Linked DNA regions of Homo sapiens: region 2 is linked to region 1. The links come from fine-mapping of genetic effects on gene expression. A gene starts in region 1. The other region holds a variant in brackets. All regions are shown on one strand. Distances are between the middles of the regions.

Region 1 (5,369 bases):
ATTTGTTTATTGAGACAGAGTCTCACTGTGTTGCCCAGGCTTGAGTGCAGTGGAACGATCTCAGGTTACTACAGCCTCCGCCTCCCGGGTTCAAGTGATTCTCCCGTCTCAGCCTTTGAGTAGCTGGGACTACAGGTGCAGGCCACCACCCATGCCTAAAACAGCCCTGGCAGAAGCATTCAATAGACACTTGCTGAATAAACACGTGCTGGGCCCCTTTGCTACTGATGGATTCAACAGCCCTAAGATTTAAAAACATACACACACACAACTTTGTTTCTGTGAAGATGACCATCCTCTCGCCGGGCGCGGTGGCTCACGCCTGTAATCCCAGCACTTTGGGAGGCCAAGGTGGACGGATCATGAGGTCAGGTTAAGTTTTGTATTTTTAGTAGAGACAAGGTTTCGCCACGTTGGCCAGGTTGGCTTGAACTCCTGACCTCAGGTGATCCACCTGCCTCAGCCTCCCAAAGTGCTGGGATTACAGCGTGAGCCACCGCGCCCAGCCAGCACATTCTAGCCTAAAAAGATGCCTTATTTTAATTTTAATTTTCACTTTTCTAATGTCTGTCTTCCTCCCAACCAGAATTTAAGCAAGCACCATGAGAACAGGAACTCTGGTTCCCATCTGCACCCCCCCATGCATAGAACAGCCCTGGCAGAAGCATTCAATAGATACTTGCTGAATGAACTCAACTCTCTGAGCAACCAAACACAAAGGTTCAGACAATTGGAACCCTGGAAACCAAAACCCCTCTCTCATCCAGAACAGGATTTTCTTTTCTTTAACAGTCAACGAGAGGAGAGTTTTCATCGGGCGGGAGCATCTCAACCTGCTAAAAGGGATTCTCCAACCTCCCTGTGAACCAGTTGCAGCCACAACTGCCAGGACGCACCTCAGCCTAGCAGGGGTTATGTCAAGAAGCCCACGTCTGTCACCAGGCCGACTGCGGTGCTGAGCAAAGAATCAGGGGATCCACCTGCTGGTTTCACCTCTGCAAACTGACTCTAAAACACTTCACTCTGCTCACATCAGGCCCCATCTACCAAAACAAGTAACAGAAAGAATTGACCTTTACACTCAATTGTCCACTACAGTCTCATAAAAACCTTCTGAGGTAGGCGTTATTGTTATTAAATACAGGCCCAGAGAGATTAGGCGACGAATCCAAAGGTCGCACAGACACTAAGCAGTTGAGCAGATTCAACCACTGGTGAAACGCCAAGCCCAAGTTTCAACCACCCCACCATCACCTTCAGTGTCACCTCTGCAGACTTGGGAGGGACATATCTAGGGTGGACCAAGCGCTGGCCAGGACTCACCTGGGCTGAAGAGCTGAGCCCAGAGGAGCTGGTGGTCTTGAAGCAGCTCCGCCGCTGGCATGTCCAAGAGCTCCAGCATTTCCTTCCGTGCCAAGTCCTGCAGCGCCTTGAGCTCCTTGGCTGCTTTGCTTTTGAGCACCTGGGGGTTAATGGGGCCAGAGACGTGCACCACCCACAGCACCGTCTCATCCAGCTGCGTCTTGGGAGCCACTTGGAGGCGGTTCACCAGCTTCTTGGCGGCCACCACCACCAGGTGCACCAACCCAGTGGGCGTAGGCGGGGACCGGCCTGAGTAGAGGAGGAACTGATGGTCTCCGACCTTCTCCAGGGTACTGGTGAAGGCCTTGGGGGCTGGGCCGGCAGTGGGCCCCACAGTCTGCAGCGCGGCCACGCGCTCCGTGGGGTTGTTGAGCTGGATGCGCTGCAGGTAGACGTGGGGTCGGCCCCTGTGCGCCAGAAAGTCCTCTTGCAGCAGCACGCAGTCGCGGCCGGACCCCGCGGCAAGGCCAGAGACGGAGGCGGGCCCGGGGCCGGCGGCCACGGGGCCAGGACCTGGGGACCCCAGCTGCAGGCAACGCACGCGGCGCAGAAGCCCCTCCCGCAGCAGCAGCACCGCCTCTCCAGCTTCAGCCAGCGCGCTCAGCGGGCGCAGCTGCACGAAGGGCACAAAGTCCGGCGCCACGGCGGGCTCCCGCTCCCCGGGAGTCACCCACAGCCGATTGGCAGCCACGTCCAGGGCCAGGAAGCCGTTGGCCACCAGGGCCGGCACTCCAGGACCCAGCGGTACCACCTCACCGCGCTCCCGCAGGCCGCGCCAGGCGCGGGTGGCCGCCTCCAGGCAGGCAGACGGCTCGGCGGCGCCCGGCTCACCGCGGGACCAGGGCAGCAGGTGCAGGCCGCCCGCCGCCCGCCGCGCGCCGGACCCCCCAAACCACAGAAGCAGCAGCAGGAGGCCAAGCAGGCAGAGGAGGCGGCGGGCCCAGCTGCTCGACAGCAGTCCCGGCAGCCCCTTGAGCCGCTGCTGCAGCCACATCGGGCCGCCAGGCGCGGGCAAGGGTGCGAGGGCGGCCGCCGGGCCCGCCGCCCAGCCCACCGGCCCGGCCGCCCGCGCCTCACTGCCCGGCCCGGACCGCGGCGCCCACCCCGGCCCCCGCCGCAACCGCCGCAGCAGCCGCCACCCCTGCTTCCTCCTTCTTCTCGGTGGCCTCCAGCCGTCAAACGACGCCGGCGGTCAAGCGTCGCCGTGTCTTTTACGACAGATGGAAAACGGGAGGGCGGAGGGAGGAGAGAGAGCAGGCCGGAGAGAAGGGGGCGGAGCCACGGCGAGGGCGGGACAAAAGCTGCCGGGGGCGGGACCACTCGTTCCCAGGCCGGAAGAGTGAAGTCCAGTGGAGTTAAGTGCAGGGGTCTGGGGAGGACTGGAAGCATCCAATTCACTCGTGAAAAAAACATCGAGCCAGCCAAACCGAACACGTGTTGGGCCCCTTTGCTACTGATGGATTCAACAGCCCCAAAATTTAAAAACATACACACACACACACACAACAACTTTGTTTCTGTAAAAATGACCATCCTCTCGCCGCGCGCGGTGGCTCACGCCTGTAATCCCAGCACTTTGGGAGGCCAAGGCGGGCGGATCACGAGGTCAGCAGTTTGAGACCAGCCTGACCAACATGGTGAAACCCCATCTCTACTAAAAATACAAAAACTAGCCGGGCGTGGTGGCGCATGCCTGTAATCCCTGCTCCTCAGGAGGCTGAGGTAGGAGAACTGCTTGAACCCGTGAGGCGGAGGTTGCAGGCTTGCAGTGAGCCGAGATCACGCCACTGCACTCCAGCCTGGGCGACAGAGTGAGACTCTGTCTCAAAAAAAAAAAAAAAAAAAAAGACTATCCTCACTGCAAAAAAACACTTGGAACAATACGAAAAAGTGGAGGAAAAAAAAAGGAGAGAGAAGAAGAGGAAGAAAGAAGAAGAAAGGAAAAGGGAGGAGGAGGGGAAGGGGAACCACCAGAGGCCAGGAGTGGTGGCTCACGTCTGTAATTCCAGCACTTTAGGAGGCTGAGATGGGCAAATCACTTGAGGTCAGGAGTTCGAAACCAGCCTGACCAACATGGTGAAAACCTGTCTCTACTAAAAATACAAAAATTAGGCTGGGCACGGTGGCTCACGCCTGTAATCCCAGCATTTTGGGAGGCCGAGGCCGCCAGATCACGAGATCAGGAGATCGAGACCATCCTGGCTAACACGGTGAAACCCTGTCTCTACTAAAAATATAAAAAATTAGCCAGGCGTGGTGGCAGGCGCCTGTAGTCCCAGCTACTCGGGAGGCTGAGGCAGGAGAATGGCGTGAACCCGGGAGGCGGTGCTTGCAGTGAGCCAAGATCGCGCCACTGCACTCCAGCCTGGGTGACAGAGGGAGACTCTGTCTCAAAAAAAAAAAAATAAATAAATAAAAATAAAAAAATAAAAATGCAAAAATTAGCTGGGCGTGGTGGTGGGCGCCTGTAATCCCAGCTACTTGAGAGACTGAGGCACGAGAATCGCTTGAACCAGGGAGGCAGAGGTTGCAGTGAGCCGAGATCGCGCCACTGCACTCCAGCCTGGGCAACAGAGCGAGACTCCGTCTAAAAAAATAAAAAATAAAATAAAAACTAACCACCAGAAACTAGACTTCCCCAAAAATATTTTGTTAACAGACCTGTCTAGCTGCATGCACACCACACGTGGACACAAATCCAGCCAAGGGCCATCAATGTCTCCACTACACCAAATCGTCTTCTTGATGTCAGTCCTAAGTTTTAACTTATTAAATAACATAAGACACTAACGTCTCATACTTTGAAAATGGCTTTAAATTGTGAATCATCGATGCAAAAGATAAATATTGCTTTGTATTTTGGGAAAAAAATTCAATATAAGCACAGAGGCAGACAATGGGTGATTGTTTCCACTTTGGTTTCAGTACATTCCAAAGCCAGACAGTGCTTCCCAGTTGTTGGAAATTAAACGGTCATTTGAGGTGGCCTCTGGTGGGCTGTGAGCAGACACAGAAATGTTTGCTGAGGCCAGTGCCCTTTAGAAGGAACTGTCCAGGTGGTCCTACAGTCTGCTTACCATTTTTATTTTTTTTATTTTTTTTATTTTTTTTTATTTTTTATTTTTTTGAGACAGAGTCACACTTTGTCCCCCAGGCTAAAGGGCAGTGGTGCAATCTCAGCTCACTGCAACCTCTGCCTCCTAGGTTCAAGCAGTTGTCATGCCTCAGCCTCCCAAGAAGCTAGGATTACAGCCAACACACCTGGCTAATTTTTGTGTTTTTAGTAGAGACCAGGTTTCACAACATTGGCCAGCATGGTCTCAAACTCCTGACCTCAGATGATCCAACTGCCTCAGCCTCCCAAAGTGCTGGGATTACAGGCGTGAGCCACTGCGCCTGCCTTATTTATTTATTTATTTATTGAGACGGAGTTTCACTCTTGTTGCCCAGGCTGGAGTATAGTGGCGCGATCTCGGCTCACCACAACCTCCACCTCCTGGGTTCAAGCAGTCCTCCTGCCTCAGCCTCCCGAGTAGCTGGGATTACAGGAACCTGCCACCACACCTGGCTAATTTTTGTATTTTTAGTAGAGATGGAGTTTCACCATGTTGGCCAGGCTGGTCTGGAACTCCTTACTTGTGATCTGCCCACCGTGGCCTCCCAAAGTTCTGGGATTACAGGTGTGAGCCACCACCCCCAGTCCTATTTATTTATTTATTTATTTAGAGAGAGGGTCTCACTCTGTTGCCCAGGCTGGAGTGCAGTGGCACGATCACAGCTCACTGCAACCTCCATCTCCCAGGCTTAAGTGATCCTCCCAACTCAGCCTCCCAAGTAGCTAGAACTATAGGCCGTCACCATTATGCCCAGCTAATTTTTTTTTTTTTTTTGGTATTTTTTGGAGAGGCAGGTTTTTGCCACATTGCCCAGGCTGGTCTTGAGCTCCTGAACTCAAGCAGTCCTCCTACCTTGGCCTCCCAGAGTGCTGGGATTACAGGTGTGAGCCA
Region 2 (5,369 bases), 67 kb after region 1:
GATGGGGGTGTTGTTGACTTGGTCATTTCCTTTCATGGCGCTGGCTGTGGGGGAAATTCACTGGGCAGGCCCTTGTCATGCTTCAGATGCTTTCGGAGTGTTCTCAGGGCTGGGGCCTGTCAGCCTCATAGTTCCCAGGAGTGTGCAGAGGGGCTAAACACCCGTCTGTGTTCCAGCCAGCTGAAGCACCTGTCTGGTGCGAGTTCTAGACAGGACAGTGGTGGGATCTCACTCAGTTGCTCCTGTATGGAGTAATTTGTTGGCCATCTGCCTGTTAAGGGCACTGGGAAAAAGCAGTGCAGTGATCCAAAGGTCTGCTCACGTAGCAAACATTTGTGCACCTGCTGGGTGCTGGGGTCAGATAGTGTGGCCCTCATGAGGCAGATGACACAGACAGGTGAGCTGTACAGTTACCTTATGGTGAGGTGAGAGCTGAGATGGGAGAAGTGCAGGGTGCTGGGGCACACAGAGAAGGGGTCCGGGGTCCTGACTCAGGTTAGAGGGGTGGTCAGAGAAGGCTTCCTGGGGGCAGTGCTGTCTAAGCTAGACCGGAGGCCAAGTGAGAATGAGCCACGCTGCCCCAAGGCAGTGTAGTGTGTCAGTTCTTCAGAGAGTGGGGAGGGGGTTTGGGCAGCAGGGAATGGAGCCAGAGGGCCGAGGAAGCTGGTGAGTTTGGGGATATGGTGAGGGAGACCGTGAGGCAGCGGGTGGCAAGAGGCCAACAGGGCCAGGGCAGGGAGGGCCTCAAGAAGTGACATAGAGGCCGGGCGCGGTGGCTCACGCCTGTGATCCCAGCACTTTGGGAGGCCGAGGCGGGCGGATCACGAGGTCAGGAGATCGAGACCATCCCGGCTAAAACGGTGAAACCCTGTCTCTACTAAAAATACAAAAAATTAGCCGGGCGTAGTGGCGGGCGCCTGTAGTCCCAGCTACTTGGGAGGCTGAGGCAGGAGAATGGCGTGAACCCGGGAGGCGGAGCTTGCAGTGAGCCCAGATCCCGCCACTGCACTCCAGCCTGGGCGACAGAGCGAGACTCCGTCTCAAAAAAAAAAAAAAAAAAAAAAAAAAAAAGAAGTGACATAGAGTGGTTAAGAGCCTGGACTCCAGAGCCAGGCTGCCTAATTCAAATCATAGCTCTGCCTTTTACTAACTCCGGAGCCATGTTAATAAAGAGGACCAAAGGAGAGAATGAATTTGAAAAGTGAAAGGAACAGTGCCTGGCATGTGGTAAGAACTTCGTAAATATTTGTTAAGAAAAAATAAACAAGGAAGGCAGTTAACATTTAAGTATTCATCTTCTACCAGCCGCCATTCACAGCATTTGTGTTTCAATTCGTTTGATCCTCACGATGTTCTCATGAAGTAGATAATGTAGTTATCTCCGTTTTGTGCTTAAGGAAACTAAGACCCAGAAAGGTTCTTTTGCTTGAGGCCACAGAGCTAGAAAGTGGTAAGAACCAGCTTCAGAACCAGGCAGTGTTGCTCCTGAGCCATCTTCTTAACCACCACACCGTGGGGCCACCATAGAGGATCTGGAGCTCAGCCTGTCGGCTGCAGGGTGCCAGAGGTGGACTCGTTTAGGGTAAGCAGGGCCGGCGCTCTGGCCCTTCCAGACTTGGGACTGTGGAACTCCTCTGACCACGTGGTGACCCATTTTCAATCCCCACCTCCAGACACGTACAGGAATGCAGAACTGGACCCCGTTACCACAGAAGAACAGGTTCTGGACGTCAAAGGTTACCTATCCAAAGTGAGAGGCATCAGTGAGGTGCTGGCTCGGAGGCACATGAAAGTGGCTTTTTTTGGCCGGTAAGTCCTTGAGGCACCCACCCTTTCTTTCTTCCTGGCTAGGAGGGAGGGAGGCACTTTGTGCAAGGTCACAGAACGTTCCAGGCAGGGACATGCTTCAGAATTCATTGCTTTCCTCTTAATTTATATTTTATTTATTTATTTGATTTTTGAGACAGGGTTCTCTGTCACCCAGGCTGGAAGCTCATTACAGCCTCGACCTCCCTGGGCTCAGGTGATCCTCCCACCTGAGCCTCCTGAGCAGCTGGGACTGCAGGTGCATGCCATCAAGCCTGACTTTTTTTTTTTTATTTTCTAATTAAGGTTAAAGGCATATAATATAAAATTTACCACCTTAACCATTTTAAGCATA[C/T]AATTCACTAGTAGGTATATTTGCAACCAGTCTCAAGAGCTTTTTCATCTTGCAGAACTGAAGCTTGTATTATAGCCATTAAACAATAACTCCCTGTCCCACATGTCCCTTGCCCTGGCCACCACCATTCTACTTTCTGTCCCTATGAATTTGACTATTCTAGATGTCTCACGTAAGTGGAATCATACAGTATTTGTTTTTTTTTCTCCATTCATAAAACTTTTATTCCACTTACATGAATTTAATACACGTGTTCTTAACAATTGTGCTTGTATTGTTCATGAAAATTTCGTAAGACATTAAACAAAGCTAGCCATCATCTCAAGTTATTTCCCTGTTAACTATTTTTACAGTGCATGCATGTTAGGCAAGCATCAAAAAAAAATCACAAAAGCAAAGAATCTAAAAATATGCCGGGCATGGTGGCTCACACCTGTAATCCCAGCACTTTGGGAGGCCGAGGCAGGTGGATCACGAGGTCAGGAGATCGAGACCATCCTGTCTAACACAGTGAAACCCCATCTCTACTAAAAATACAAAAAATTAGCCGGGTGAGGTGGCGGGCGCCTGTAGTCCCAGCTACTTGGGAGGCTAGGGCAGGAGAATGGTGTGAACCCCAGGGGGCGGAGCCTGCAGTGAGCCGAGATCGGGCCACTGCACTCCAGCCTGGGCGACAGTGAGACTCCATCTCAAAAAAAAAAAAAAAAATCTAAAAATAAGTTAAATACGTGTTTTTTTTGTTTTGTTTTACTGCTAGCTTGATATACATGAAGTATTCATTTTTCCTGCATCTTTACTTTTACATTTGTTCTTAGGTTGCCTGAAACATTTTAAATACAAATAAAATGAGTGTAGCAAAAATAATGAAAGCTAACAGCAGATAACTTTACAAATAATGGAGTGTGAACCATTTCTGCCCTTATCCAGATTGAAATGGGTCACAACTTTGTTTAAAGGAACACTTCCACAGCTGTAGTCAAAGGTGTGCACATTGAGATTGAGTATTCCACAGACACACATGGTTTAACATGTGATAACCATGGGGTATCTGTTTCTACCACAGCCTTGTAAGTGCTCCAAACCTTAAAGTACCCACATTTACTATACCTGTGACTGGAACCAATGATCCTTTTTATTCCCCACCAGGACAAACCAATATGTAGGCAGTTTTCTTTGCTTTGACATGGAAGCAGTTTTAACACTGGCCCTTGTGAAGCCACAATGTACCTAAAGTACTAGGCCAAACATTTATAACTTGTATAATGACCAGGCACGGTGGCTCACGCCTGTAATCCCAGCACTTTGGGAGGCCAAGGCAGGCAGATCACAAGGTCAGGAGATTGAGACCATCCTGGCTAACACGGTGAAACCCCATCTCTACTAAAAATACAAAAAAAATTAGCTGGGTGTGGTGGCGGGCGCCTGTAGTCCCAGCTACTTGGGAGGCTGAGGCAGGAGAATGGCATGAACCCAGGAGGTGGAGGTTGCAGTGAGTCAAGATCGCGCCACTGCACTCCAGCCTAGGTGACGGAGTGAGACTCCGTCTCAAAAAAAAAAAATCTAATACAAGAAAAAAGGCATCTAGACAGATTGTATGCTAGGCACACAGTGGTAGCCTGGGGAATAGGCACTGTGCCTAGAGTCTTGACCCTGATGAACTGTAACCTCAGGTGTGGTCCTCTACTCCTCTGAACTATCATTTCTTCATCCTCACCTGGGAGGTATGACCCCCTACTTAGGTGAGCTAGTGGGCTTCCTGTCTCACTGGGTGCAGGTAAGGTCATTGTAGTTCTGCTCTAGTGATATGGCTGAGAAACTTCAACTCAGAATGAGAAACACTGTGTTTAGCACAGGTTGAAAGCTCTGAGACTCAGAGCAGATGAGTCTGCTGAGCAGAGCTATTCTCAAGAAGCAGAAATGGTGGGGTGCAGTGGTTCACACCTGTAATCTCAGCACTGGGAGGCTGAGGCAGGAGAATTGCTTGAGCCCAGGAGTTTGAGACCAGCCTGAGCAACATGGCAAGACCCCATCTCTACCAAAAATTTAAAAATTAGCTGGGCGTGGTCGCAGCTATAGTCTATATATAGGTGGTACCTATAGTCTAAGCTACTTGGGAGGCTGAGGTGGGAGGATCATTGAGCCCTGATGGTCGAGGCTGCAGTGAGCTATATTCATGCCACACGCTACTGCACTCCAGCTTGGGCGAGAAAGCAAAATCCCATATCAAAAAAAACAAACAACAACAACAACAACAAAAAACCCCACCAGAATACATGAAAGGGGTGTGATAGGTAAGAATGAGAAAGTAGGCTGGGCATGGTGGCTCATGCCTGTAATCCCAGCACTTTGGGAGGTTGAAGCAGGCAAATCACCTGAGGTCAGGAGTTCGCGACCAGTCTGGCCAACATGGTGAAACCCTGTCTCTACTCAAAATACAAAAATTAGCCGGGCATGGTGGCACATGCCTGTAGTCCCAGCTACTTGGGAGGCTGAGGCAGGAGAATTGCTTGAACTCAGGAGGCAGAGGTTGCGATGAGCTGAGATCGTGCCACTGCACTCCAGCCTGGGCGACAGAGTGAGACTCTGTCTCAAATAACAATAAAAAAAAAAAGAATGAGAAAGTAACCTTCCCTTTAGCCTGGCAGTTGTCAGCTGGGACTCACAAGGTGGAGCTTCATGTGTAAGGAGGAGCGTGATGGGAGAAAAGCAGCGAAACATGCCCTGTGTAGGAAACACTGGGGTCATTTAGACTGAGGAAGACACTCTGGGGGTTAGTCGGTGTTTCAGGTAGGCCTGAATTAAACTTTGGAGACAGACAGACAGTCTCTATAAGTGTTGCTGAGGGTGGCTGTGTGATTCAAGGGGCAGACAGCACGCAGTGAGCCTCTTGTAGATTGATCTGAAATGATGAACCAGGGGCATGTCAGAGGTTTGGGCCTGGGGGTGTTTATTCATTTTAATAAACAGTGCCTACTCTTTGTCTCTCAGCACTGTCTGGGCACTGGCAACATTGCACTGAATAGGGCTTTGGCCTTCCAGGCTGGTATCTGCGTTGTGAAAGTAATTCAGGTCAGATACTGGTGGCTTTGCTGACAGCTGTTACTTCCTTCTAGGACGAGCAATGGGAAGAGCACCGTGATCAATGCCATGCTCTGGGACAAAGTTCTGCCCTCTGGGATTGGCCACACCACCAATTGCTTCCTGCGGG

The links. PIP is the estimated chance that this variant, and not a neighbour inherited with it, causes the effect.
Region 2: its variant is the best candidate, but not a certain one, in a credible set for the expression of KIAA2013 in whole blood (TOPMed, PIP 0.64).

What each region holds. Positions count from the first base shown.
Region 1 is chr1:11,923,882-11,929,250 of GRCh38, forward strand. It overlaps KIAA2013, which reads right to left and starts at 2,546. Exons shown (of 3, transcript NM_138346.3): 1 at 1,324-2,546. The coding sequence starts at 2,356. RefSeq lists enhancers at 1,490-2,152, 2,153-2,816, 2,471-2,765 and a silencer at 2,401-2,470.
Region 2 is chr1:11,990,882-11,996,250 of GRCh38, forward strand. MFN2 (mitofusin 2) reads left to right here. Exons shown (of 19, transcript NM_014874.4): 4 at 1,674-1,809; 5 at 5,275-5,369. Among named protein-coding and RNA genes, the nearest start is that of MFN2, 13 kb to the left of the region's middle. The variant C/T (reference allele first, on the strand shown) is at 2,162.